6 linked regions of the Homo sapiens genome follow. The protein of the gene in region 1 purifies or fractionates together with the protein of each later gene. This does not show direct contact. Each region holds a gene or a part of one and is shown in the gene's direction. Other genes may lie near its edges. The genes, in order: SPANXN5, BPGM, KLHL18, PRUNE1, C17orf75 and EHD4.

The links.
Region 2: the proteins of SPANXN5 (region 1) and BPGM purify together in Homo sapiens (affinity purification with mass spectrometry; one large-scale study listed by BioGRID and IntAct). This does not show direct contact.
Region 3: the proteins of SPANXN5 (region 1) and KLHL18 purify together in Homo sapiens (affinity purification with mass spectrometry; one large-scale study listed by BioGRID and IntAct). This does not show direct contact.
Region 4: the proteins of SPANXN5 (region 1) and PRUNE1 purify together in Homo sapiens (affinity purification with mass spectrometry; one large-scale study listed by BioGRID and IntAct). This does not show direct contact.
Region 5: the proteins of SPANXN5 (region 1) and C17orf75 purify together in Homo sapiens (affinity purification with mass spectrometry; one large-scale study listed by BioGRID and IntAct). This does not show direct contact.
Region 6: the proteins of SPANXN5 (region 1) and EHD4 purify together in Homo sapiens (affinity purification with mass spectrometry; one large-scale study listed by BioGRID and IntAct). This does not show direct contact.

What each region holds. Positions count from the first base shown.
Region 1 is NC_000023.11:52,795,291-52,799,390, reverse strand, and holds SPANXN5 (sperm protein associated with the nucleus on the X chromosome N5), read left to right. Parts: upstream 1-1,963; 5' UTR 1,964-2,042; coding exon 2,043-2,117; intron 2,118-2,759; coding exon 2,760-2,903; 3' UTR 2,904-3,247; downstream 3,248-4,100.
Region 2 is NC_000007.14:134,652,872-134,657,455, forward strand, and holds part of BPGM (bisphosphoglycerate mutase), read left to right. Parts: intron 1-4,584. UniProt on the Homo sapiens protein: Plays a major role in regulating hemoglobin oxygen affinity by controlling the levels of its allosteric effector 2,3-bisphosphoglycerate (2,3-BPG). Also exhibits mutase (EC 5.4.2.11) activity.
Region 3 is NC_000003.12:47,337,803-47,342,386, forward strand, and holds part of KLHL18 (kelch-like protein 18), read left to right. Parts: intron 1-2,754; coding exon of another isoform or gene 2,755-2,769; coding exon 2,770-2,874; intron 2,875-4,584. UniProt on the Homo sapiens protein: Substrate-specific adapter of a BCR (BTB-CUL3-RBX1) E3 ubiquitin-protein ligase complex required for mitotic progression and cytokinesis.
Region 4 is NC_000001.11:151,021,422-151,026,005, forward strand, and holds part of PRUNE1 (exopolyphosphatase PRUNE1), read left to right. Parts: intron 1-3,189; coding exon 3,190-3,374; intron 3,375-4,093; coding exon 4,094-4,252; intron 4,253-4,584. UniProt on the Homo sapiens protein: Phosphodiesterase (PDE) that has higher activity toward cAMP than cGMP, as substrate. Plays a role in cell proliferation, migration and differentiation, and acts as a negative regulator of NME1. Plays a role in the regulation of neurogenesis.
Region 5 is NC_000017.11:32,327,176-32,332,492, reverse strand, and holds the end of C17orf75 (protein Njmu-R1), read left to right. Parts: intron 1-514; coding exon 515-730; 3' UTR 731-4,052; downstream 4,053-5,317. UniProt on the Homo sapiens protein: As component of the WDR11 complex acts together with TBC1D23 to facilitate the golgin-mediated capture of vesicles generated using AP-1. May have a role in spermatogenesis.
Region 6 is NC_000015.10:41,969,062-41,974,347, reverse strand, and holds the start of EHD4 (EH domain-containing protein 4), read left to right. Parts: upstream 1-1,790; 5' UTR 1,791-1,853; coding exon 1,854-2,089; intron 2,090-5,286. UniProt on the Homo sapiens protein: ATP- and membrane-binding protein that probably controls membrane reorganization/tubulation upon ATP hydrolysis. Plays a role in early endosomal transport.

The sequences.
Region 1 (4,100 bases):
AAAGGCAGTAAATGAAAGGTATGCATCATTAACAAAAGGAAAACTAATTTGATATTAATAAATTTAATAGAATGTTCTTTTGAGAAATAGCTAGGAAGAGCATCCAGTAGATTAAACAATCTTGAAGAAAATGGAAAAGGCACAACACAGAATATGAACAAGACACAGATATTGAATGTAGGGCATAATTGAAAGGGAATACATTCTTGAACACTAATGTTTTCAGAGTGTGGATGATATGGTTGATATGCTCAGAATGCCTACACTATTTAATATATCCCTGAAATACCTGAATATCTGAACATCACAAAGACTGTGGAAGGACGTGAAATTTGCCAGTTGTACCTCAAAACACAGTCACCTTTTTTTTTTTTTTGAGATGGAGTCTCTCTCTGTTGCCCAGGCTGCAGTGCAGTGGCACAATCTTGGCTCACTGCAAGCCCCGCCTCCCGGGTTCATGCCATTCTCCTGCCTCAGCCTCCCGAGCAACTGGGACTATAGGCACCAGCCACCACGCCTGGCTAATTTTTTGTATTTTTAGTAGAGACGGGGTTTCATCGTGTTAGCCAGGATGGTCTTGATCTCTTGACCTGGTGATCTGCCTGCCTCGGCCTCCCAAAGTGCTGGGATTACAGGCGTGAGCCACTGCGCCCAGCCAAAAACAGTCACTTTTAGAAGCAAATATTTAGCTTTCCAGATGTGTTACTCTCCGATTTTGTTTCCCTCTCCATGTCTTTTTCTTTGCCTCACTGCTTATGATGTATAACTCTTTCACGTCTTAATGCCAATAATGATAGTGATACCTTAAAACTTATATTACCATTTAATTAATTATACAAATGGGAATACTTTCCGGTGAAAAATGTGTCATTATTCATATTGACATGATGACTATAGGTGAAAACTGGATGCAAATTTCTAATATATAACTTCTACTAGATAAACATACAATTGATTTATATGTTGATCGCTTACTCTGCAATCTTGCTAACCTCAATTATTGTAGAAGCATTTTTTTTAGATTGATTTTCTACATACACTCTCATGTAGTCTTTGACAAAAGATACTTTTACTTCTCCCTTCCAATCTGAATGCATTTTTTTTTGTCACTGGACACAATCTCCAGTGCAAAGCTTAGCTATGCCCACATTCTTGCACATATTAGTCTTAGATTGCAGTATCCTGCAGGTAAATACTCAGGACAACTTCCAGCACTTGAATATTTACTCCTTCCCCCACCCCACATACTGGTAGAATTCATGTTGGGATACTACATTTACTATGAACATACACCCCTGATTTGAAACAAGACTAGGATGCAAGGTAAAGAATGTTAATTCACTAAAGTTTTGACAGACTGAGGCCATTGTTTCAGATTGGAAATAGGAAACTTAAAAGAACTACATGGACATTGGGTAAAAGAACATGGGTTGAAATTTGCCTGGCAGTAGCCCAAGAGTAAATGGTCTTCAAGGTGCATATGAAGGAACTGTAAGAGGGAAATGGGATAATTCACATCTCCACCAATAATTAAATGTAGCCACACTAGCTTGGGGGATTTGAGGTGAGACATCTAAAATACTAAGTCATGGTGAGGGCTGGAAGACAAAAGAATGAATCACTTAATAGGAATGGCTGTGGGGAAGGGCTTGACAGAATCAACCTCTCACTTCCATGTGAACCATGAACATTAAACATGGAGAAATGAGGAGCGGCAGCAGATCAGTTTGGGATGCGTCTTCAGGGGATGCTGAAACAACAGCAGCATTTGGTTTCCTCTACACCCCTGTCACCCCTCCCCCACAAGCCCAGGGAGTGGTCAGCAGTGGTGCTTTGTGATGTCTAAGCCACCCTTGGACTGCCATTGGCTGGGACACTGCCTGTATGATCAAACAAAGCTCAAGGGTGTGGCTTTGCCTTGTCACCAGGAGGGTATATATAGGGAGGGCAAGAGCTCTGGGCCACTGGGAAGCTTCAATATAGCTGTGGAAGTCTGGACTCTACAAGATCCTGCTGTAGACATTCAACAACCAACCAGAATCATGGAAAAGCCCACTTCAAGCACCAATGGGGAGAAGAGGAAGAGCCCCTGTGACTCCAACAGCAAAAATGATGAGGTAAGATTGTTAGGTTTTGAAGTGAAGGCGAGGGTGAAAGAAAGACACACAGAGAGGGGGCAGCTCAAACAGCAACACAGGAATACTGCAGACGCTTGTGGAAGTGGGGGACCAGCTTAATGCCAGATCCCACCACCGCTTACAGCCTGGGGTACTTACAGGTATGGGTGGGAGGGATCTGGGCAGCATGGCTTGCTGCCCAGCAGGATATTGATAAGATGTTCTTATGATCAGGTGGTTTGGCCCTTTTTCTGGTGGAATATCGTTGTGGTGTTCCTTAGAACTTTGCCAAGCAAGATATGATAGGGATGTTTCTTTAGTTGGGCCTTTGTCTGCCTTGTGGACAGGTGGTTAGGCAGGATGTTTCTCACGGCCTGAACCCCCATGGGATGTTTCACTTTGACCAAGGTCTGCAAAATAGCAAAGAACTTACAAAATGGTGCAGTTTGGACTAACAGATGACCCTACCCATGCTCCTCTTCTTCCCCATAGATCCCTACCCTGTGAGTCAACCTTGTTCTTCTCTGGATCGAACCCCTTCCTCAACCTGCATTCCTTCTCATAAAGCCCCCCTTGCTATCCAGTCTCTATCCTATTCACCCAAAATAATGTCTTTCTGGCCTCTCCCTGTTTTCTTAACAGATGCAGGAGACACCAAACAGGGACTTAGTCCTCGAACCGAGTTTGAAAAAGATGAAAACATCAGAATATTCAACAGTATTAGTGTTGTGCTACAGGAAGACTAAGAAAATACATTCAAATCAACTCGAGAATGACCAGTCCTGAGAGAACTCCATCAATCCAGTCCAAGAGGAGGAGGACGAAGGATCCTCACAGGAGGACGAAGACCTAGACTCATCTGCAGAATCTTCAAAGCAGGATGAAGACCTACAATTACCTGAAGGATCTTCACAGGAGGATGAAGACCTAGGGTTATCTGAAGGATCTTCACAAGAGGATGAAGACCTAGACTCATCTGAAGGATCTTTGATGGAGGAAGAAGACCCAGACTCATCTGAAGGATCGTCAGAGGAGGGTGAGGAAGACTAATTAAACATGGAGAAACCAAATTGGACAAATCCTCACCACCAACGGTGATGATTACAATAAAATCAAGTTTGAGAAGCTGATGGCTGCATATATCTATGCCTGTTTTCTGATGGTGGGGGAGAAGGGAAGGGAAGAGGTAGGCATTTGAGAAGGGAGGGATATGAGGTCCTGTAGGGTTGGTGGACAGACTCACAGGTTGACAGTAAGCCAGACATTGTAAATAAGGCCTGGGGGAGCACTGATTCCTAAAGAAAATTTTCTTCTTAAAATTTCCTCCCACAGGAAGTGGAGATGTGTATATGTTCATGCAACTGTACCCGGCAGCACATAGTTCTGCTGAATGTACATATCAAAGGTATTCCCATCCCTTTTCCATTTGATATTTTCCTAGGTTAGAAATATATGCTTTATAAAGAGTTAATGTTCTGTAAAACACAAAGCACAATACAGACATACACAGACACCTCTGCTCACTCTCTCTAGAGGGATACAATTAAAAACATTGGTTATAGGGCCGGGCACAGTGGCTTGCGCCTGTAATCCCAGCAGTTTGGGAGGCTGAGGTGGGTGGATCACCTCAGGTTTGTGAGGTTTTCAAAGAAAGATCTTGATCAAAAGAGGGAATGTGAAGCTGACTGTGTGAATGAACCAGCTTCTCCAGTGCCAATGAGCCTCATTTCAAAGCAGTGGAGATAACTAGAAAATTGTACTGTTACTATAAAAGAATAACAAAAGGGGGAAATTGTAAGGGTAACTAAACATAAAATTGAGATTTTCCTGTTGCCAAAAGAGCAAGAAGAGACCTTCCCCATTTCACTTTCCTTAGAGCATTTCCTTGAGAAAATTTGTATTTATAAATTCTTCCTTTGATATGTAAGCCTCTGGCCACCCTATAACCCAGGAATGTCTTGAACTTGAACTCCAGGCCTCAAG
Region 2 (4,584 bases), on another chromosome or scaffold:
ATCTGTTGATGGGCACTTAGATTGCTTCCATATCTTGGCTATTGTGAATAGTGCTGCAACAAACATGGAGTGCAGGTATCTCTTCAGTATACTTATTTGCTTTCTTTTGGATGTATACCCAGTGGCGGGCTTGCTGGATCATATGTCTACTACCTGTTTTTGAACAGCCCACAAACTATGCATGGGTTTTACATGTAAAACGGTTGAAATAAATTAATATTTCATGTGCATGAAAATTATATGAAATTCTAATTTCAGTGTCCATACCTGAAGTTTTATTGAAACAGATTTATTCACTTATATATTATGTATGGTGGCTTTCAGCTGCAATGGCAGAATTATACAATTGTACCTAATTATGGCAGAGACCAGTATAGCCTAGAAAGCCTAAAAAATTTGCTATTTGGTGGTTTACAGAAAAAGTTGCTAACATCTGAGCTAAGCTATAGTGTCTTTCACGTTTATCTCCTTCATCTCACTTAAACGGCCATTGTCCTGGTCCAAGTCTTTATTCTGTGTTACCAGAATTATTGCAAAAACCTCTCAGCTAGTGTTCATACTCCTGGGTTTTCCTGTCTATTTCTGTAAGTAAGTGCTGCCTGATCCTGCTAAAATGCATGCTACTAAACTTTTAATGATGTCCCAATATGTATAGAAAAACCTACATGCTTTGGCACAGGCTTTTTTTGTGTCACTATTTTTTCTTATCTTTCTAGGCTAGTCTTCTCCTGCTTCCTTATTATACCCTATACTTACAGTGGCCATATAATTTTCCAAATGGGACACTTAAGTGTGAAAGGGGCCCTAGTAGTAATTATGTTGGGGAAACAGGCCTAAGACAATACTGTTCTGTAATAATGATGCATGTGCCTCTTTCTCCTAACTACCCTCTCTGTCTTGACCTTGCCAAAAGAATGCTAATCTTGAACCATAACTTCAATTTTATGGTGGCATTTATGGAAAGAATATTTTTTGCCTATTAGGCAAATCAGGATGTATGGTTACTCTAGCTATACTCCAACCAGTTTGAATGGGCTCGCCATTTTCCATATGTACCTGTTCCTTTGCCTTCACTCACTGTTCCCCTAGATTGGAATTCCTTTACTTTTTTCTGTAAATCTAAACCTTGCCTTTCCAAATCCAGCTTAAAAAATACTGTGTCCACGAAGCCTTACTCAGAAATATTCTCTCCCATCCCACCTCTCTTTTACTAATGAAGTGCTTTCTCATGGTGTGAATTACTTTGAGTTTTAGGTACACACACACACACACACGTACTGAAGATGAAGACATAATTCTTGTTGGATTACATATTCCTCATAGGCCTAGCATTGGGCCATGCCTAAATGGGATCTGCAAAATGTTTGAAGAATGAATTAATTGGTCAGGCTAGGGCGACTGAGTATTTGGGGCTTTCAATTTATGAGTCATCCATTTTAATGTGATTAAAGCAGTGAGAAAAGGGTTTCCAAGAACTGAAGACTGAGCCTCAGGTTTCAATGTGACAGTGTAGCAAAATGGTTCAGGGCATAGATACAGACTTCTCGAGACTAAATTCCAGCTCTGCCATTTACAGCCTCTGTTACCTTAGGCAAGTTAACCTTTCCTCCTGTTTCTTCATCTGTGAAATGGGAGTAATCATAGTAGCCACTCCATGGAATGGTGGTTGAGGATTCAAACAGTGCCAAGTAACATTGAACTAACATTCACAGGTGAGCACTCTGTGAATGTTGGCTACTGTGACTAATATGATCATCTTCATAGTACTCTTACAGGTAGGTAAGAAAATGCAGACACCCAAGACCAAGATGTAACCGTGGAAGAGCTGGAGGAAATGCTACACCAAAATCTTAGTGGGTTTTTTTTCTTGATGGAAGTAGTCTGTTTTAGAGAAGTCATGAGAGAAGATGATCTCCACTTAGTAAGAAGTAACTAACCTGTAGTCTTTTGAGGCACCATTTCAGTAGAGTGGGTAAGGCACAAGTTTGGTGTCAGGAAACTAAAAAAGGAATGGCTAGAAGGGAAGGTAAATGGACAAGAGGAAGGGGAGGGAGGATAAGATACACAGCTGTGTAAAAGATGTTTCCTTAGTAAACTTTTTCTTCAAGCCAGATCACACTTTAAAAAGGAAGACACCCTGGGGGATAAATCAATAACCTATGTGTTCTTTTTTTGACATGATGTAAATTATTGATTAAAATCGGTACTTAAGTGCCAGTAACTTTTGCTATGGGATAAATGAGAAACCAGGTACAGGTTGGTGAGCTTTTATGAAAAACAAAACAAAACAAAAAAAATAAAGCTTGAGGTTGAAAAGGAATAGTTTTTAATTTGGGATGGGGAGTATTTATTCTTAGTAAGGTTCCTCTTTATAAGTTGGGGTGACTATTGCCTGGCTTACTTTGTGCCTTGAGGTTTTTCTCAAGAGTACTAATAAGGTGAGCCCTCCTTCATGTTCACCTTGTTCGTTTGCGTTTGATGAAATGGCTGCCTGGGTTTGGAAGGACAAGTTGGAACTGGAGATACCCCTGTGAAGTGAAGCCAAGTGAGCCAAGATCCTCAAACCATGACTCTAATATCTCCAGTGGGGGGTTGAAGGCAGAAGACCAGGGTTGCAGTTCCAGTTTGCCATTTACTGGCCATATGTTTTTGAACAAGTCAATCAGAATCTCCATTTTTTTCTGTGGAGATTATGGCCATCCATGAACATACTAAACTTATAGTACAAAAGTACAAAGTACAGAACTATAATGGATAATTATTCTTGGCTCCTGTTTTGACATAAATACCCTGAGATTCTTAAGTTAAAGTTTCCTAACATCTTAGCCCTGCCAACTGATTTTACTGTGGCAGTTACCACTAAAACTCTCAAGCCTTAGTCTCATGTGTACAATCCAGTCATTTCTGTCTGACTTTGGTTCAGTCAGTACACCTACTGAGTGCCTCATATGTGCCAAGCGATGTGCTAGGTTCTAGAGATACAGCAGTAAGACCTGCCTTGATGCAGCTTACAGTCTTACAGGGCACATAGCCATTGAACAGGTAATATATCTCAAGGGATCCATCGCAAGTGCACCAAATGTGGTTAAGCGGGATGCTACAGGAGTAGGTCAGCAGGCCTGACCTACTTCCCAATGGGTGAAGAGGAAGTCTAAAGCCAGGGGTTCTCAAAACATGGTCCTTGGACCAGCCATGTCACCATCACCTGAGGACTTGCTAGAAATGCATATTCACAGTCCCACCCCAGACCTACTAAATCAAGCTCTGGAAGTGGGCCCAAGCAATCTGTTTAATTTGATTTTGATATACATTAAAGTTTGAGAACCACTGGCCTACAGGAACTAACATTTAAGCTGAGCTCTAAAGCTGCATGATCTAGTGCGGTAGCCACTGGTCACATGTGGCTATGGAGCACTTGAAATGTGGCTGGTTCACATTGAGATATGCTTTCATTATAAAGTACACACCAGATTCCAAAGACATACTGTGAAAAAAAAGAATGTAAATTGCCTTATTAATAATTTTTGTATGGATCATGTGTTAGAATTGTATTAGTTCTCATGCTGCTAATAAAGACATATCAGAGACTGGGTAATTTTATAAAGGAAAGAGGTTTAAATGATTCACAGTTCAGCATGGCTGGAGAGGCCTCAGGAAACTTACAATCATGGTGGAAGGGAAGCAAACATGTCCTTCTTCACATGGTGGCAGCAAGGAGAAGTATAAGTGAAGTGGGGGCAAAGCTCCTTATAAAACCATCAGACCTCGTGAGAACTCACTTTCTATCATAAGAACAGCATGAGGGTAACTGTCCCCATGAATCAATTACCTCCCACTGGGTCCCTCCCATGACACATGGGGATTATGGGAACTACAATTCAAGATGAAATTTGGTCTTGGCCCCTCCCAAATCTCATGTCCTCTCATTTCAAAACATAATCATGCCCTTTCCAACAGTCGCCCAAAGTCTTAGCTCATTTCAGCATCAACCCAAAAGTCCAAATCCAAAGTCTCATCTGAGACGAGGCAAGCCCTCTCTGCCTATGAGCCTAGAAAATTGAAAGCAAGTTAGTTACTTCCTAGATACAGTGGGGCTACAGGCATTGGGTAAATATACCTGTTCCAAATGGGAGAAATTGGCCAAAACAAAGGGGCTACAGCAGGCCCCATGCAAGTCCAAAATCCAATAGAGCAGTTGTTACACCTTAAAGTTCCAAAATGATCTCCTTTGACTCCATGTCTGAATGATAGCTTTTGGACCTATAGGATTCATGTGGCTTGTAGAAAATTTAAAACTTCATTGTGCCTCGCATTATATCTTGATTGGACACAACTGATCTAAAGGATGACTAGAGCTTAACCTAAAGCAGGGTGAGACTGAAGTGGCAATGGAGAGAAGAGATGAAGGGTGAGTGTTCTGCATAGGGTACAGTGTGTGCAAAACTACTGAGGCAAGAAAGAACCTGACATGCTCAAGGAAATAAAACGAAAGCCTTGCAGGTCACATGAAGGATTCTGAACATTTTCTAAGACCAGTAGGAAGAATTGAGGTTTTAAAATAAGATACTCAATTTTCAAGGAGTT
Region 3 (4,584 bases), on another chromosome or scaffold:
TTGCTCCTTGGATACTTTGCAGCTTCCTATGTTTGAGTGACTCATTGCTCCGTGTCCCCAACCATGAGTAGCTTTTTTGCTTTGACTGCAGTCAGCTGTCCTTCCTTGTGTGTCTGCTCTGGACCACTTCCTTGCTTTGATGTTACTGGGTTTAGAGGGCTGTCTTGGAGGAAAGTTCTCTGGGTATTCCTTTCCTTCACTGTGGTTAATATCCTGTTATTAGTGTGGGCCCGGTTCCATTACATCCCTTTTAAATTACAGGCTACCTTAAAACGTTCCTAGTCACTTCTCTTCTGACATCCCACACAGCTGTCTGTTCTGCCAGTTAGTGACATCCTGCCATCTTTCCTTCCTATCTCCCCCAGTGTTCTACGCCATCCCATAGACCTTTCTTACACTGGACTATTCCAGTCCATGCTGATCAGCATTTTCTCCTTCTCTTCACACTCGCCTTTACCACCTAGTTGATAGTTAATCTCATGCAGTTTTGGGGCACCTCTTAATTCATTTTCATATTGTTCAACACCTGTTTTGTTATGTAATTTTTATGTTTGTTTTGTGTCCGTATCCAGAAGGATAGTGATCATGTCTAGTAAATTTGTGATCTTCCCACAATACTTGCCTAAGGCAAGTCCCTCTCCTCTTTCTGGCTGGTTCAGGGGGTCAGTTATCATGTCCCTGAAAGGGACATTCTGTGGATCAGTTTGATTACTATGTACATTTAAAAGGTAGCAGCAAGCCAGGTATGGTGGCTCACGCCTATAATCCCAGCACTTTGCGAGGCCAAGGAGGGCGGATCACCTAAGGTCACGAGTTTGAGACCAGCCTGGCCAACATGGTGAAACCCTGTCTTTACTAAAAATACAAAAATTAGCCAGGCATGGTGGCGGGCGCCTGTTATCCCAGCTACTTGGGAGGCTAAGGCAGGGAGAATTGCTTAAACCGGGGAGGCGGGGGTTGCAATGAGCTAAGATCGTGCCACTGCATTCCAGCCTGGTTGACAGAGTGAGACTCCGTCTCAAAAAAAAGAAAAGGTAGCATTAAGCCTGGTATGTTTTATTTTCCTGTTTGTTAGAAACCTAGATTCATTTTTAATCTTCACCAGCATCACATTTGAAAATAGTGAATTGGGCAGCTTGGCATTTGTGCTGAATTCCTTATAAGGCGTTGTGTAGGAGGGAAGATTACATGATTACACCACCAGACCCCTGGGTCTTTGATATTAGGAGAGCTTGGCATGTAAGGAGTTGGGGAGTTGGGCTTGTCTCATTTAAATCTGAGGCAGGCCTCTCTCTGGGCAGTCTTGAGGAGAGACCTCAGCCTCCCCAAGCTATGGCTGCCTGTCTGTACAGTGATTATGGTGCTCTTTCCTTCCTTGCAGGGTGTGCTAAGGGCTGAAAATAGCAAGTGGGCCATGCACAGTGGCTCACACCTGTAATGCCAGCACTTTGGGAGGCTAAGGCGGGAGGATTGCTGGAGCCCAGGAGTTTAAGACCAGCCTGGGCAACATAGTGAGACCCCCGTCTATACAAAAAAAAAATTAGCCAGGCATAGTGCCATGTGCCTGTAGTCCCAGCTACTGGGGAGTCTGAGGTGGGAGAATCCCTTGAACCCAGGAGGTCAAGACTGCTGTGAACCATCATTGTGCTACTGCACTCCAGCCTGATGATAGAGCAAGACCTCATCTCAAAAAAAAAAAAAAAAAGAAAATAACAAATGTAGAGTACCTAACACATGTAGTAAATGCACAGCAAACAGGAGCTGTGGCATCAGCCACTATGATAAATTAGAGGCCATGCACATGATGAAAACAACATCTGTGAATTGAGTGGGAAAAAGCAGAGGTAACACAACAAACATACATTCAGTGCCTGTTACATACAGGACATCATACTTATCACTGTGAGGGTCACACAGGTGAAGGCCCTTTCCTGTCTTCCAGGAGCTCCTCACTTATTAAGAGGTGGCAGATAGATTGGCTGGGTGTGGTGGCTCACTCTTAACAATCCCAGCACTTTGGGAGGCTGAGACAAGAGGACAGAAGTTTGAGACCAGCCTGGGCAACATAGCAAGACCCTGTCTCAAAAAAAAAAAAATTAGCTGGGTGTGGTGGTGCACACCTGTAATCCCAGCTACTTGGGAGGCTGAAGTGCAGGAAGATCAATTGAGCACAGGAGTTCAAGGCACAGTGAGCTATGATGGTACCACTGCACTCTAGCCTGAGTGACAGAGCAAGGCTCTGATTAAAAATTACACACAGAAGTGGCAGATAGATTCCTGGTAGCCTATAATGTCAGAACATAAGTGCTTTGTGGGCTGGAACTTTGGCTTGCTTACCACTCTAAACCCCAGCTGTTACAGATCTGATGGATGAATGAATGATTGTAACAACTGCTGATTAATAAGCCACTCAGGGAGCGTGGGGGTGGGAAAGAGTAATTCTTACAAAGGGGAGGAAGAGGAGAGTGGAAGTTGAGTTGGGCCTTCAAGGTAAATTCGACCTTCACATGGTGAGGTGGAAGGTAAGCATTTTAGAAAGATTAAGGACAGAGAAGAGCAGGGAGGGGAGGCAGCCTGCGGTAGAAGGGTGGGGCACAAGAGGAATGATGGGGCAGCTTCTGTCACCTCAGTTTTATGCCTTTACTTAGTCACATACCTTAGATTTACGTTGCAGAAAGAGGCAATTGATAGGTTTGTTTCTCAGTGGGCAAGAGAGGCTGCTCCAGGAAGGCTGCGGCTCATCTGGGATGACAGCTCTGTCTGTTTCAGTGCCATGGGGACAGTCGTGCTGGATGGGCAGATCTACGTCTGTGGGGGCTACGATGGCAACTCTTCCCTCAGCTCCGTGGAGACCTACTCACCTGAGACGGACAAGTAAGGACTCCAGCTCCCTTGGGGCAACTGGAGCTTATAAACAGAGAGTATAAAAATCAGAACTGTAGTTTTTTTAATTTAAGCTTCTCAAGGGTAGAGAATGTCTTACCTTTTTGCCCGTATAGTACTTTGTATATACTAGATATTTAATAACCCTTGGTTAAGTGAAAGAATGAGTAAATAAAATTTTAAAACAAATAGTCTACATAGTTGCTTGGAAATACTTATTTAATGGTCTGTACCTCTTAGCTAAATCAGCCCATTTTAATGGAAATACAGGCAAGAGGGAATAAGAAGTAGATGAACAGCATGTTCCAAAGTGGGTAGGATATGATTTGGAAAAAAAAAAATGTTTTTAAGTTCTGTGGTCAGATAGGCTTGGGAAATGTTGATGTCTGAACTGCCAGAGTCCTTGTCTTTCCATAAGATATATTAACATTTTAAAGACTCTAAGAAACCCTGCAGTAAATAACTCTGTTTAACCTCGGGTTTTATATACACAACAGTCACCATCTTGTGGGACTCATTTGTGGAACACTCTTTGAAAAACATTGACAAGGTTAGCCCGAGTTTTTCATTTCAGTATTTGAATCCTCTCATCTTATATAATAAAATATAAACAAATTAGTTGAATGGACTTATTAGGATGCCTTTAAGCCAGTATTCTGTTCACTTGACCAATCTACTGTGGATCAGACAGCAAGCTGGGTGTCTGAGATCCTTTAAAGCATCCAATGTGGTTGGGCCATGGGTTGCATCATGATCATCCTACCCTGGAGGCCTGTGTCAGAAGCTCTTGGGCACAGAGCAGAGAGAACCTTCATCTTCCCCAGGGTTGCAGGAAGGGACAGGGTAGCAGGGATGTCTTCCAAGGTGAGACCTGTCATGGATAGCCAATGGGAGGTGTTTGCTCATCATAGGGAGACAACAAGGAGTGAGGCTGCAATAAGAAAGTGTTCACTGTAATCGAGAACAGCAATGATCCTCTCATGGGCTAGAGCACAGCGTGTGGATGGGAGACGGAGCAGGGTGGGTGGCATGTGGTGTGGGGTGAAGCTGAAGGGTGGTTGAGGACCAAGAGGTGAAGAACCACATGAAGGGCTGGGCACAGTGGCTCACGCCTGTAATCCTAACACTTTGGGAGGCCAAGGCAGGAAGGTAACTTGAGCCTAGGAGTTTGAGACCAGCCTAGGCAACATAAGAGAGACCCTGTCTCTTTTAAAAAAAAAAAAAAAAAAAAAGGAGAGAGAGAAAAAAACATTAGCCAGGCATGGTGGCATAAGCCTCTAGTCCCAGCTACTGAGAAGGCTGAGGCAGGAAGATTGCTTGATTCTGGGAGGTCAGAACTGCATTGAGCTATGATAGCACCACTGCATTCCAGCCTGGGTGACAGAGTGAGACCCTGTCTCAAAAATAAAAAAAAATTAAAAACCACATGAAGGAACCTGGATTCTCTTAGAGGAGACAGTGAGGAGCCACTGGACGGACATGGTGCAGGTACAGGAGGAGCAATCCCTCTGGCTGGGTGGGGTCGGATGGGACTGGTAGGAAAGCCAGGCTGCCTGTAAAGAGGCTGTTGCAGTGGTCCAGATGAGAGGTCAGGGGTAGGGCACTGGTAGTGGGGATGGGAGCAAGCACTGACTAGGAAGCAAACCAGCCAGGACTTGGGGGACCACAGGAATGTTGATGGTGAGGGAGAAGCAGCCAGAA
Region 4 (4,584 bases), on another chromosome or scaffold:
TCCAGCCTGTGCAACAAGAGCGAAACTCCGTCTCAAAAAAAAATTTTTTTTAATCTATAAATATCTCAATAATGTCTGTTTAACAAATGTACACATTTATAATAATTCCATCCCTAATTTACTACTGGAAAAAACTACCAAAAAAGCAACACGATTATGTGACTTTCCTAAGTCTGTTTGGCTCCTGCTAATATTTTTTTCTTGAGCACATTGTGGTTATAGCAGGATACTGACAGAAGGCAGCCTGAGAGAGCATTATCCATCTATGGATTCATTCAGTAATAAACTTTCCTTTTTTTTTCTTTTTTTTTTTTGAGACAGAGTTTTCTCTTGTTGCCTAGGTTGGAGTGCAATAGTGCAATCTAGGCTCACTGCAACCTCCGCCTCCCGGGATAATTTTGTGTGTGTGTGTGTGTGTGTGTTTTTAGTAGAGATGGGGCTTCACCATGTTGGTCAGGCTGGTCTTCAACTCCTGACCTCAGGTGATCCGCCCACCTCGGACTCCCAAAGTGCTGGGATTACAGGTATGAGCCACCGTGCCACCACCTTTTTTTTTTTTAAGAGATGGTGTCTCTCTCGCTCTGTCTCCTAGGCTAGAGTACAGCGGCATCATCATAACCTTGAGCTCCTGGGTTCAAGGAATCCTCCCGCCTCAGCCTCCTGTGTAAAAGCATCATTCCTGGCTAATTTTTTTTTTTTTTTTTTTGAAACTGAGTTTTGTTCTTGTTGCCCAGGCTGGAGTGCAATGGCACCATCTCGGCTCACTGCAGTGAGCCTCCCAGATTCAAGTGATTCTCCTGCCTCAACCTCCCAAGTAGCTGGGATTACAAGCATGCGCCACCACACCCAGCTAATTTTTTGTATTTTTAGTAGAGACGGGGTTTCACCATGTTGGCAAGGCTGGTCTCAAACTCCTGGCCTCAAGTGATCCGCCCGCCTCAGCCTCCCAAAGTGCTGGGATTACAGGCGTGAGCCACCACGCCCGGCCTGGCTAATTTTTTTTTTTTTTTTTTAAGAGACGTAGTCTCGCTCTGTCGCCCAGGCTGGAGTGCACTGGCGCGATCTCGGCTCACTGCAAGCTCCGCCTCCCGGGTTCACGCCATTCTCCTGCCTCAGCCTCCCGAGTAGCTGGGACTACAGGTGTGCCCGCCACCACACCTGGCTAATTTTTGTATTTTTAGTAGAGACAGGGTTTCACCGTGTTAGCCAGGATGGTCTCGATCTGACCTCGTGATCCGCCCGCCTTGGCCTCCCAAAGTGCTGCGATTACAGATGTGAGCCACCATGCCCAGCCTTTATTTTTTATTTTAAATATATATATTTTTTTTTTATGGAACAGTTCACAAATGTGCATGTCATCCTTGCTCAGCGGCCATGCTAATCTTCTCTGTGTCATTCCAATTTTAGCGCATGTGCTGCTGAAGTGAGCACTGATCTCAGTCTTGAAAGAGGACTAGGTGTTTGCTTGGTGAATTGGGAGGGAGGAGGGAAGGTGGTTAGGAAAGGCATTCCAGGCAGAGGGAGTAATTAATAGAATCAAATGCAGGCAGGCGTGAAATAGCATGGTGAGCTAGGGGAAATGGAATTTGTTTTGCACAGCTGGAGCATAAAATTTGAGGGAGAAGTAGGACATGGAAAAAGATGAGACAGAGGGGGCAGGCAGGAGGCAGATTATGGAGGCCTCATAGGCCCTTCTAAGGTGATTGGATTTTATTTTAGGCCGTGGGGAACTATTTTAAATTATATTCTGGGTCCTAAAAGAATCAGATTTTCTTTTTTCAAATGATCATTCAGGCCACTTTGTGAAGGACAGCCCAGGAGGGCTCTTGGTTGGAAGCAGGTGATTGGTTAAGAGACTACTGGAATAGTCCAGACGAGAGATATTGAGGGCCTAGAGTGGGGCAGTAACAGAGAGTTAGAAACTAGGGCATGGATAGGAATTAAGATAGAATTCACAGGACCTGGTGACCCACATGGAATCTAAGTATTGAGTGGGTTATAAAAATAGGAGAGATTTGCTGGGCGCGGTGGCTCATGCCTGTAATCCCAGCACTTTGGGAGGCCGAGGCGGGCGGATCACGAGGTCAGGAGTTCGAGACCAGCCTGGCCAATATGGTGAAACCCCGTCTCTACTAAAAATACAAAAATTAGCTGGGCCTGGTGGTGGGCGCCTGTACTCCCAGCTACTTAGGAGGCTGAGGCAGGAGAATTGCTTGAACCTGGGAGGCGGAGGTTGCAGTGAGCCAAGATTGCACCACTGCACTCCAGCCTGGGCGACACAGCGAGATTCCGTCTTAGAAAAAAAAAAAAAAAGGAGAAATTTAGATGTTGGGTATCAAGGGTGTCAAGGGTATAGGGTTGGAAAGGCAACGCTAAAGGACAGCAAATGTGGGGGTAAGATATTTGCAGCAGATGCTTCACAGAATTTGCTTATACACTATTTAAAGATGACTCCAATTATAACATTAAAGAAAAGAATTGCTGGGCGCGGTGGCTCACGCCTGTAATCCCAGCTCTTTGGGAGGCCAAGGCGGGCAGATCACGAGGTCAGGAGTTCGAGACCAGCCTGACCAACATGGTGAAACCCCATCTTTACTAAAAATACAAAAAAAAAAATTAGCCGGGTTTGGTGGCACGTGCCTTGTAATCCTGGTTACCCAGGAGGCTGAGGCAGGAGAATCACTTGAACCCGGGAGGTGGAGGTTGCAGGAGCCGAGATCGTGCCATTGCACTCCAACCTGGGCAACAGAGTGAGACTCCGTCTCAAAAAAAAAAAAAAAAAAGAATTGAGAGGAGTTAGGCAGAGGTAAAAGTAACCAAAGGTCAGTTTTAAATGCTTGCCTGGCAGATCACCTGAGGTCAGGAGTTTGAGACCAGACTGGCCAACATGGCGAAACCCCATCTCTACTAAAAATACAAAAAAATTAGCTGGGCATGTTGGCAGGCGCCTTTAATCCCAGCTACTCAGGAGGCTGAGGCAGGAGAATCGCTTGAACCCGAGATGCAAAGGTTGCAGTGAGCCAAGAACGCACCATTGCACTCTAGCCTGGGCGACAAGAGTGAAACTCCGTCTCAAAAAAAAAAAGACATCTGCATTTTCCTTGATGTGTGGGGTAGAGGTTGGCTAGAAGCAGCTGGAGTGTCCGTACCTATCTTTCTTCCTCTTTTCCCATACCCTCCCCTCCACAGAAGTGACACAGCCCTAGAGGAGGCAGTAGCAGAGGTGCTAGACCATCGACCCATCGAGCCGAAACACTGCCCTCCCTGCCATGTTTCAGTTGAGCTGGTGGGGTCCTGTGCTACCCTGGTGACCGAGAGAATCCTGCAGGGGGCACCAGAGATCTTGGACAGGCAAACTGCAGCCCTTCTGCATGGTAAGGGTGGCTTTTGGATTGGGACCTCAGTAGTTCTATTCCTGTCCCTGAGAAGGGAGGGTGGAAAAGTCTAGACGCTTCCAGCCTAACCATATGCTCTCAGAGCCATTCAGCTCATACCAAAAGATAGGATTCTTTCAGGGGACAATTGAGCATGTGTTTAAAGGCCTGTGGGATACTTGTTGGAGAAAGTAGAAAGGAAGTGCAGGGCAACAGACCAAGAAGCTTCCTATTGGCATCATTTTATGATGGAAGGAGGATTAGCTAAAGAAGCAGGAAACAGATTCCAATACCAATTCCTCCAGGAAATAGGTGACCTTGAGCAAATCTCTTAACCTTTCTTGTTCTCATTTTTCCACTTGTAAAAAAAAAGAGAGAGAGAGTGAGTTGGACTAGACTGTCTTTTCCAACTTAGAAGATTCTTTGATGGGATTTGGCCTACTGAAGAGGTGTATCTCTGTCTGACTAGGCTGTAAAATCTCCAAGGTTTGAGATGCTCAGGCTTTCTTTCTACCTTTTCCCCATTTCCCTTCCTACATTTTAGTTTGGATTTGGGAGGTCTGAGGACACTGTCCATCCCAGTTTCTCATTTTGCTTTCAGAGATTTTGCTATACAAATCTCCTTGTGTGTGTCCATTTGGTGTGAAGGTTATATATGTTCTGGTGGTTGTGTGTGAAGGGTCACAGGATTCAAGTTCCACCATCTCCCTTCTCCACAGGAACCATCATCCTGGACTGTGTCAACATGGACCTTAAAATTGGAAAGGCAACCCCAAAGGACAGCAAATATGTGGAGAAACTAGAGGCCCTTTTCCCAGACCTACCCAAGAGAAATGATATATTTGATTCCCTACAAAAGGCAAAGTTTGATGTATCAGGTATGAAATGTTAGCTGACTTTTCTGCCTCCCAGATAAGAAAACAGAAAGGCAAGCCTTGTTCATTATATTATTTTTTTTTTTTTGAGACAGAGTCTTGCTCTGCCACCCAGGCTAGAGTGCAGTGGCACAATCTTGGCACACTGCAACCTCGACCTCCTGGGTTCAAGCGATTCTCCTGCCTCAGCCTCCCGAGTAGCTGGGATTACAGGCGCCCACCACCACGCCCAGCTAATTTTGGTATTTTTAGTAAAGATCGGGTTTCACCATGTTGACCAGGCTGGTCTTGAACTCTGAAGCTCAGGTGATCTGCCCGCCTGGGCCTCCCAAAGT
Region 5 (5,317 bases), on another chromosome or scaffold:
CATGCTAGGTAGATTATTTTAAAGTATTTTTATTTTGTATAAGAGATTTTTGGCTGCGCGTGGTGGCTCACGCCTGTAATTCCAACACTTTGGGAGGCTGAGGCGGGTGGATCACTTGAGGTCAGAAGTTCGAGACCAGCCTGACCAACATGGTGAAACCCCGTCTCTACTGAAAATACAAAATTAGCCTGGTGTGGTGGCACACACCTGTAGTCCCAGGTACTTGGGAGGCTGAGGCAGGAGAATCACTTGAACCCAGGAGGCAGAGTTTGTGGTGAACCGAGATCAAGCCATTGCGCTTCAGCCTGGGCAACAAGAGCGAAACAAGAAAAAAAAGGAGATTTTCTTCTTCTACCAAGGGCAAAGCATACTGCAATTTAAATTTTGGAAATATTTAATATGAAAAGCAAACAATTCAGGAAGATATGTTGAGTTCTCAGCTGGATAGGAGTTATTTTTTGAGCTTCATTATTATTTCACTTAACACATTTTTAACTGGGTAATCATTTTCTAGGCCATACAAGACACAAACAATTTGAAGAGATTTATCCGACAGGCAGAAATGAATCATTATGCTTTGTTTAAATGTTACATGTTCCTAAAGAACTGTGGTAGTGGAGATATACTTTTGAAGATTGTTAAAGTGGAACATGAAGAAATGCCTGAAGCCAAAAATGTGATAGCTGTCCTTGAAGAATTCATGAAAGAAGCTCTTGACCAAAGTTTTTGATCATATGTTTTGAGATAATTGTATGATCAAGTTGTATATTTAAGTCTTAGTGTTTGAAATTGCAGTTATAATTGTTCATAGGATTGCTATTTAAGATGATTTGAAACTCAATCCAGATTTTCTTTTTGTATTTTACCAATTTAACTTAAATAAAAATCTGAAGAACATCTTCACTGAGTCCTAGATAGATAATGTATGTGAGAGTTGTGAAATTTTAGTGTCTCACTGGCCCCATAAATTCCACGCTTCAGGAAGTTGTTGCTTAAAAAATTTCAGAGATGATTTTGTTTGTGGCTTTTCTCAGGAAAAGCCTGAGTTTGCTGCAGTATTTAGCAACTTTTCTTCTCAGAAAAACCATAATACTTCCTTTTCAGTGGACTGTAGCTTCTTAAAAAAAAAAATGTAATTCTAGTCTTAGAACAGATTAATACCACTACACCAGTTCAGAGATAGATCTGTGCATCCTGTGGGTGCTTGATACATTTTTTTGTCTAGTTGATAACGGCATGGATGATAAAGTCAGATTTTAAGTCAATATGCAAATCCTGAGTATGTAGAAAATTAAATGAGCTTTACAAATCGATGCACTAGCTTCAAGATAAAATATTATCTTTGAGCTGGGCGCAGTGGCTCAAGCCTGTAATCCCAGCACTTTGGGAGGCTGAGGCGGGCAGATCATGAGGTCAGGAGATCGAGACCATCCTGGCTAACACAGTGAAAGCCCGTCTCTACTAAAATACAAAAAATTAGCCGGGCATGGTGGCGGGCGCCTGTAGTCCCAGCTACTCTGGAGGCTGAGGCAGGAGAGTGGCGTGAACCCAGGAGGTGGAGCTTGCAGTGAGCCGAGATCGCGCCACTGCACTCCAGCCTGGGCGACAGAGCGAGACTCTGTCTCAAAAAAAAAAATAATTATCTCTGAGAGAAAGCTACTGCAGAAATCGCCTTCAGTCACCATTTCATTTATTTGTTCACAGGTATTTATGAAGAGCCTGTGTTTTCTTTTAGGTGAAAATGCTGGAGTTTTAAAACAGTGTTGAGAAAAGAAACAAAGTACATACAGTTTACAAGCAAACTGTAACATAAGGAATGCAAACAGTTTCTTCCTATTAGAGTTACTCATTGATTTTAGTTTTTTGTACATTTGTTACAAGCCTCAGATTGTTTTACTCTGAATCAATTGAAAGTGCCCTCAGCTAGCCATTTACAATTCCCATGGAAGCCTATGTAGCTACATACATACAATTGCAATTTGCTCGGGATAGCTCTTTAATAAATTCATTTGATAATGATTTTTGCTTAGAAGAACAGAAGTCTTGTGTTCTCACTTCCCTGAGGATGCTCAGAGGAGCACAAACCCATAAAACTGAGGAATCCTCTCTTAAATGGATCTAAATTCACATTAAGTGCTGAGTTTTAACTTTCAAAATGACTGACAATGGCCTTCTGCTTTCTCCTCTACATAAGCCTCGGGACATGACTCACATTTCTTTTCTTTTAATGAGAAATACAATTCAGAATCTTCATAAATGCTTTCATACGGTTTTAAACTTTAATAACTTGGAATGTAGGCAGTATAGAAAAAAATCTAAGTAGCATTTTTCATAGTATTAAAGTGAGAGTGGCTGGGCACGATGGCTCATGCCTGTAATCCCAGCACTTTGAGAGGCCGAGGCAGGTGGATCACCTGAGGTCAGGAGTTCCAGACCAGCCTGACCAATATGGTGAAACCCTGTCTCTACTAAAATTACAAAAATTAGCTGGGAACTGTGGCATGTGCCTGTAGTCCCAGCTACTTGGGAGGCTGAGGCAGGAGAATCGCTTGAACCCGGGAGGCAGAGATTGCGGTGAGCCGAGATCGCGCCACTGCATTCCAACCTGAGTGACAGAGCGAGACTCTGTCTCAAAAAAATAAAGTCAGGGTGACTAAGGAAAACCAGCAATTTTATGACACTGTCCTTGAATCTGACTGTCTTTTCCCAATGTAGTTGGTTCCCCACTTGGAAATCATTTTTTAAAGTAAGCTACATTAGCACATCAACGTTTTAAGTCTGAAAAAATACTTCATTTTCAAATTCATGTCATTCAAGAGTCTATGTTGTAAATGGCATTTAAAAGCAAATGTGTTACCTGCTTCAAATCATTTATGGATATAGGCAAGGTGTAATTACATATTCTCTGTGTGGTTGTATATATTTTTGTAATGTAGGCTCACTACATTACACAGCTCTATATGATAGTCTTATTTTATCTTTTTTTTTTTTTAATGAAATGGGGTCTCACTATGTTGCTCAGACTGGTCTTAAACTCTTGGACTCAAGCAATCCTCCCACCTTGGCCTCCCAAACTGAGCCACTGCACCCGGCCTCTGGTAGTCTTATTTTAAAAAAAGTAAGTCTGGGCTGGGTGTGGTGGCTCATGCCTGTAATCCCAGCACTTTGGGAGGCCTAGGCGGGCAGATCATGAGGTCAGGAGATCGAGACCATCCTGGCTAACACGGTGAAACCCCGTCTCTACTAAAAGTACAAAAAATTAGCCGGGCGTGGTGGCAGGCGTCTGTAGTTCCAGCTACTCGGGAGGCTGAGGCAGGAGAATGGCGTGAACCCGGGAGGCGGAGCTTGCAGTGAGTCGAGATCACACCACTGCACTCAAGCCTGGGCGACAGAGCGAGACTCCGTCTCAAAAAAAAAAAAAAAGTCTGACAAACTCTGTATCACTACTGTAGACAAGGAAAATGGTGTCATGGAACTGAATATCTTGGTCATGAGAAGAAACCACAGAGTTCATGACTAGAAACATGTACTGTATTCAAATTTTAATAAGCTACTATCTTGGCTTTTAAAGTTGTTTTTTTTTTTGTTTTTGTTTTATTTTTTAAGACAGAATCTCGCTCTGTCACCCAGGCTGGAGTGTGGTGGTGCAATCTTGGCTCACTGCAACCTCTGCCTCCCAGGTTCAAGTGATTCTCCTTCCTCAGCCTCCCCAGTAGCTGGGACTACAGGCATGTGCCACCATGCATGGCTAATTTTTTGTATTTTTAGTAGAGACGGGGTTTCACCGTGTTAGCCAGGATGGTCTCGATCTTCTCACCTTGTGATCCACCCGCCTTGGCCTCCCAAAGTGCCGGGATTACAGGCGTGAGCCACTGTGCCCAGCCAGCTTTTAAAGTTTTAAAAAGGATTTGTTCAGACATGGAATATATTTGTGTATATTACTTGTGTGCTGTACACACAGAGGAAATGTATGTTTGTCATGTATGAAGAATGGCTTCAGTTTCTCTGTAATTAATTTGTAATTATAATAATAAAACTTAGCTTCTCATCAAGACAGTTGTTTTTGTTTAATGAGCTCAGTCCTCAAGCCTAACATTTGTATTCCCAACAAGGTTGTGAGGAAATTATACTTGCTATACTAAGGAATTTGTTGAAGAAGATCAAATCACTTGCTGGGATACACACCTTTCTGCTTCTTGCAGGAGGCATCAAGCAGAATCTAAGAGCAATTTCCCTCACAATGTTTTATTCATTGTCCAGTAGAGTTATACTCATAGAACTCAATAACCCAAGTTACTTCCTTTCACTCTCATTCATTATTCACCATGACAGAATGCCTGTCCTCTACCAGAGGATCCCTTAGACCAGGTGCCAGGAAAGCCTGCGGGCTTCTTGGAAATAAGATGCAGTTACTAGGACCACACTTTCCTAACAGTGTGTCTTCTCACTTAATGGAAACCCTGCTGACTTCAATGAAGTCTTTCCACTTGGAGGTCTGAGAGGGCAGTCCAGTTCTCTTAATTGCTAAAGTTCCTAAATGTGGCTGGATGTGGTGGCTCAGGCCTGTAATCCCAGCACTTTGAGAGGCCAAGGCAGGAGGACTGCATGAGCCTAAGAGTTCAAGACCAGCCTGGCAACACAGTGAAATGCCATCTCTACAAAAAATAAAATTAGCAGGACCTGGTGGTATGTGCCTATAGTCCCAGCTACTCAGGAGGCTGAGGCTGGAAGATCGCTTGAGCCCAGGAGCTCAAAGTAACTGAGCTATGACTACCACTACACTCCAACCTGGGCAACAGAGCAAGACCCTCTCTCAAATATAAAGAAATAGGCCAGGCACGGTGGCTCATGCCTGTAATCCCAGCACTTTGGGAGGCTGAGGCGAGCAGATCACCTGAGGTCGGGAGTTCGAGACCAGCCTGGCCAACATGGAGAAACCCCATCTCTACTAAAAATACAAAATTAGCCAGGCATGGTGGCACGTGCCTGTAATCCCAGCTACTCGGGAGGCTGAGGCAGGATAATTGCTCGAACCTGGGAGGTGGAGGTTGCGGTGAGCCGAGATCACATCATTGCACTCCAGCCTGGGCAACAAGAGAAAAAATACATATATATGGAAGCAGTAATGAATCGACAGCTGTGGTTTTTCTTGTAAACTACTATGAGGGCTGATAAGGTGAAGGTCCTATTACATGAACTCTGAGTGAATGTCCCGAGGTTCATTCCTGTTACTGGATGGCCCCAGGCCTAATGCAATGAGATGGATCTTTAAACAAAGACCCTGAGGCCTGCACATGCTTAGTGCCCTTACAGTCCT
Region 6 (5,286 bases), on another chromosome or scaffold:
TTGTACCTTCTTCTAGTAGTGCAGTGGTTTCATTTTCTTTTTACATTTCAATCTTTGTTTTATTTTGACACAAGGCAGATGTCTAACTTTATTTTCCCTTGGCTTTCTTTTCACTTCCCTAGTTACATACAATTCCCTCCAACTATGTGACCCACACAACAACTCCAAAGGAGTTTCCATTTTGCTCTTAAGGAAACTAGGGCAGAGAGGTAACTCATCACATTTAAAATCACACAGCCATTAATTTACATAGTCAAGGTTCAAACCCAGATCTTTTGATGCAAAGTCCTGTTCTCTCATACTCCAAGTATGGTCCAGGGATGGGTAGCATTGGCAATACCCGAGAGCCTGTTAGAAATGTAGAGTCATGGGCCCCATCCCATACCTACCGAATCAGAATCCGCATTTCTGTTAGGTTGGAGAAGTACTGCAGGGTGTACTGTTTCCCCAGACTTAGGCCACATCAGAGTCACCTAGGGCATCTGTTGAGCTCCATCTCTCCTCAATATTTTAACTCAGTAGGTCTGGACTGAAGACCAGGAATCTGCATTTTAACAAGCATCCCAGCTCATAAATGCATATATGCAGGTGGCCCCATGGATCACACTTGAGAAATGCTCTAAAACAACTAAGAAATATTCCTAAGCTACAATCAAGGACACAAAAGGTGATTATTTCCCCCAATCTCAACTTAGATAAGTGAGTATCCTTTTAACCTAGAAAAGAAACAGGCCAGGGGCGGTGGCTCACGCCTATAATCCCAATACTTTGGGAGGCCAAGGCAGGCGGATCATCTGAGGTCAGGAGTTCAAGACCAGCCTTACCAATATGGTGAAACCCCATCTCTACTAAAAATACAAAAATTAGCTGGGCATGGTGGTGAGCGCCTGTAGTCCCAGCTACTCAGGAGGCTGAGACAGGAAAATTGCTTGAACCCGGGAAGCGGAGGTTGCAGTGAGCCGAGATCGTGCCACTGCACTCCAGCCTGGGCGACAGAGCGAGACTCCGTCTCAGAAAACAACAACAACAACAAAAAACAGCTAGGAGGTGACAATGACTCACATGTCAATATGTGGAAATAAAGTTGTAATAATGAGGATAATGTAATAATGAGAGTAATGACTAAATTTTCGGCTTTACAGAAAAACACATAAAGAAAACTAAGGGGAAAAAGCCTTTAGCTGATCCAGAATTTAGTGAGGGCAATGTGGAGAAGTAGGAGAAACGGCTACTCAAATAGATTCCAGTCCACTTCCCCTCAAGATTGTGTCAATTATGCCCGTGAGCCTGGGTCTCTTGGCCTGTAAAACGGAGTCATAACCACCCGCCCCCGGGAAGACAGAACCTGCCTGTCCACTTTCTGAACTTTTCATCCCCAGTATCGACGTCCAGAGGCCTGAATGAGTAAACGTTCCAGGAGATGGAGCAGCCTCCGGAGGCTCGCTTTGGGCAGCTCAGATTTACCCGGAAGCCGATGCCACCTGGCCAGAGGTGAGGCACCGGCAACCAGAAGGGGGCCCTGAGCATGACCGGTCAGTGCCACCCGGCCGGGAAGACACCATCTCCCCGCCCAGTCCTCTAGAATGACTCCGTCATCAATAATTCATTAAGAACCTCCTCTCAATTGGCTGACGCCTTCAGCCCTCTCTGGCAGAGATCCAATCAGGAAGGACCTGAGAGAGCTCGTCTGAATAGTGGGCGAGCGCGCGTGACGTAGCGGCCGAAGACTGGCTGTGGCAGCACAAGGCGGGGCCCTCCTCGGGCGGCGGCCAGCGCGGCCGGGGCGGCTCAGTGCGAGCCGGGGAGAGTCGAACCCGGAGCAGGGTCCCATCCGAGCGTGGACTGGCGGCAGGATGTTCAGCTGGATGGGGCGGCAGGCGGGCGGGCGCGAACGCGCTGGCGGCGCGGACGCGGTGCAGACGGTGACGGGCGGGCTGCGCTCGCTCTACCTGCGCAAGGTGCTGCCGCTGGAGGAGGCGTACCGCTTCCACGAGTTCCACTCGCCTGCGCTGGAGGACGCCGACTTCGAGAACAAGCCCATGATCCTGCTGGTGGGCCAGTACAGCACCGGCAAGACCACCTTCATCAGGTACCGTCACCGCCCCTCGCCCGGCTCCCGCCCCGCTCCGCCCTCCCCACGTGTGCGCCGCAGTCGGCCGCCTCCCGCCGCTGCCCCTCCCGGCCGGCGCGACCTCGGGGACCCCTCCCGGAGCTCGGCGCCCGGTGCCCTCGGCCCCGCCCCGGCTGGCCAGCCCCGCGCGCTGGAGGGTCCCGCGAACCCGCGCCCTGCGCACTCCGAGCCCTCCTTCCTTGCGGTTCGGAAGGCGTTGCTCCCGCTGGCCTCGTCCGGTCGCCCTGGCGGGAGGGTCCAAGGGAGAGAGGGGGCGCGAGCCATAATCAGCATATTCTTGACGAGGGAGTGATGCCTAGGGATGGAAATGGGGGGAGAGGCGTAGGGTATCCGAATGGGACAGAGTCCTAGTTGGAGAGTTTGTTTAACTATTCATTTGTTCAACTATTTCTTGAACAAATGAATGGCAGCAGGAGAGCGTATCGCCCAGGCCCCCTTCCCTTGAGGTCTTTACGTGCCACCCCACAGTGTTGTGGGGAGGGGATAAAGAGGCCGCCTACGTTCAGTTCATGCACCGCCTTTAGCCGCCCGTAGGAAGTGAGCTGCGTGTAGCAGCCGCACCAGCCTGTGGAACTAAGGGGGAGTGTCATATTACTATTTGTTAGTTTCCATTTCTTAGGTGGGTCATTCCCTCCTCGCTTACCCTTGACAACTGAAAATATTTGTCATGCTTACCGTGTTTCTGAAAGCACACAATCACTGTGCATACCCTGTGGTTCAAATCATATAGTTTCAAAAGAAGTGACTTTTGCTGGGAAATTATTTAGACAGAAACAGATTGCTTTGTTGATCACCTGTTTTATTTCTAAAGCAGCCAGCATATTTAGGCTCACTGTTTTTGGTAAGAAGAACTTATTTTTCTGACTTAAGCCGTGTATCAGTTGAAACAAAGTGCTGATCATTTAAGGTTTTGGTCCAGGGTTTTGGAAATTGTAACAATCTCTTCATCATTTGATGTGCAACAGGTGTTGAGAAAACTGCATCTATATTTGGATACATGCCATTTCTGTTAAGTAGCGACCTCTTTTTCTCCACTCCAGTGACCTAAATAGTTCCTACAAATAGAGTAGCTATCACTACAGGAAATATGTTAAATCCAGGCCTCCAGATACACTGCGAATGAATTCCACAAAACAAATATACTGTGTATTGAAATGTCGTTCTAGATAATAAATTGAGTGTGAAGAAAGTAATTTCAAAATTGCTTTATTTGGTGCTTATGGACAAGACAAAAATAGAATTAAATATGTCACCGTCACCCAGACACTCAAAATGAACCATAGCTGTATTACAGTAACTGGCACCTTGAAAGATGACAAATGTCACATTTAAGGTCTCAGTAATACTGTCTAGTTTTTAGGTACTAGGGATAATAAAGTGTTATGGCCAAGTGGTACAAGAGTGGGAAGCGGTACTGTTGAAACATACAAAGAAGAAAGGCATATATTTTTGTAATTTAGTGGTGGCATGTCCCCACACCCTAGGCATTTCCTCCTGTTTGTCTTTGCTGTGAGGTCCTTGTTGTGCCCAGGTGTCATCAGGGAGCCCCTGCTAGATGCTGTGCCAACCTGGAGATAATGCAGCCCTCTCTCTGCTCCCATAGACTGGATAGCTAGCCAGCCTGATTATCAACTCCCAGGAAGATGAATACAACTCACAGGAACATGAATTTATCTTTTGTATTTTTCCAGATTTCTCTCTCATTATATTCTCACTCTTCTCTCTGTTTCATTATTTGGAGAAATTTGTGGAATAGCTAAGCGCAGTTTTATGAAGGGTTCTGAGATTTGATTCCTGGCAGCTACCTCATCCAAATTGGCCACCTCTCAGCAGGTGCTGGAGCTGTGGGCCACCCTAGGGTGAGGGAGGAATCACCTTATTAGGAAGCCATTTGTTCTTGAGGCTTTCCTTGAGCTAAGTGGCTTTGTTGTTAGGTGATGTACACAAGGTAGACCAGTGAGGTTAGAAGAAAATCAGTGTGGGCAGGAAGCTTGGTGAGGCCACAGGAGACCTGAATTGCTTTTCAGATTGGAGCTAGGAGGAAGTGATTTAGCACCCGGGAGGAAATCCCCAAACAAAAGGGCAGCTACCCTGGAGACTTGTGAACTTGGAATTAAATATCACCCCAGACACTGTAAATGAACCATGGATTCATCTTGAGCGGAAGGGTTGGCCCAGGGTGCTGAGCATCCTGGATCCTGCCTTAGTTAGAGCCTGGTTAGTGGTCTGGGTTGTTTGCTTCTAGCGATTGGGCCCTAGAAGCTCATACTTGGCTGTGGGGTGTACCTAATCTACATAGCCATAGATTCTTATCTCCCTGGCTTCCTGCACATTCCAAGAGGTCACTGATGACACAGAACCTGTGCTGACATGGTGGGAATCTTCTCTTATTGCTGTTGGCTCTTCTGCCTTTGACTGGCAATAAAGAATTGGCCAGAGAAGGAGGGGAGATGGGCATGGGGGAAAGTGACCATGTCATCTTAGACTCTGTACTAGCCGAGGAAGGATGGATATGGAGCTCACCCAGGCTTGTGTCCAAAACTTGAGGAAAACAGATTTCAAAGATTCCTCCAGAAAATCCCTGGCCCCAGGTGCTGTGAAGGAAGACATTTCCACTGAAAAAGTATGAAGTCCATTTGAAATGAATGCAAACTACACAATTTTTTTTTTTTGAGACAGTTTCGCTGTTGTTGCCCAGGCTGGAGTGCCATGGCATGATCTCGGCTCACCGCAACCTCCCCCTCCCGGGTTCAAGCAATTCTTCTGTCTCAGCCTCCCGAGTAGCTGGGATTACAGGCATGTGCCACCACGCCTGGCTAATTTTGTATTTTTAGTAGAGATGGGGTTTTTCCATGTTGGTCAGGCTGGTCTCAAACTCCCGACCTCAGGTGATTTGCCCGCCTTGGCCTCCCAAAGTGCTGGGATTACAGGCGTGAGCCACCGCGCCCCATCCCAAACTACACATTTTTAAGAGCTCCACTTTCTCCCTTCATATGCTCTGTTCCCTCTCCCCAGAAAACTTATTCTAATGAGGAAAAAAGAGGGAAGTCACTCAAGAAACTATATAGGCTTTAAAAGGGTAGAGAGCAGGGAAATAAGGCAAGAAAAGAAATAAACTCCCAGACTGGAGAGAAAAAAGTAAAACTCTTTGCAGA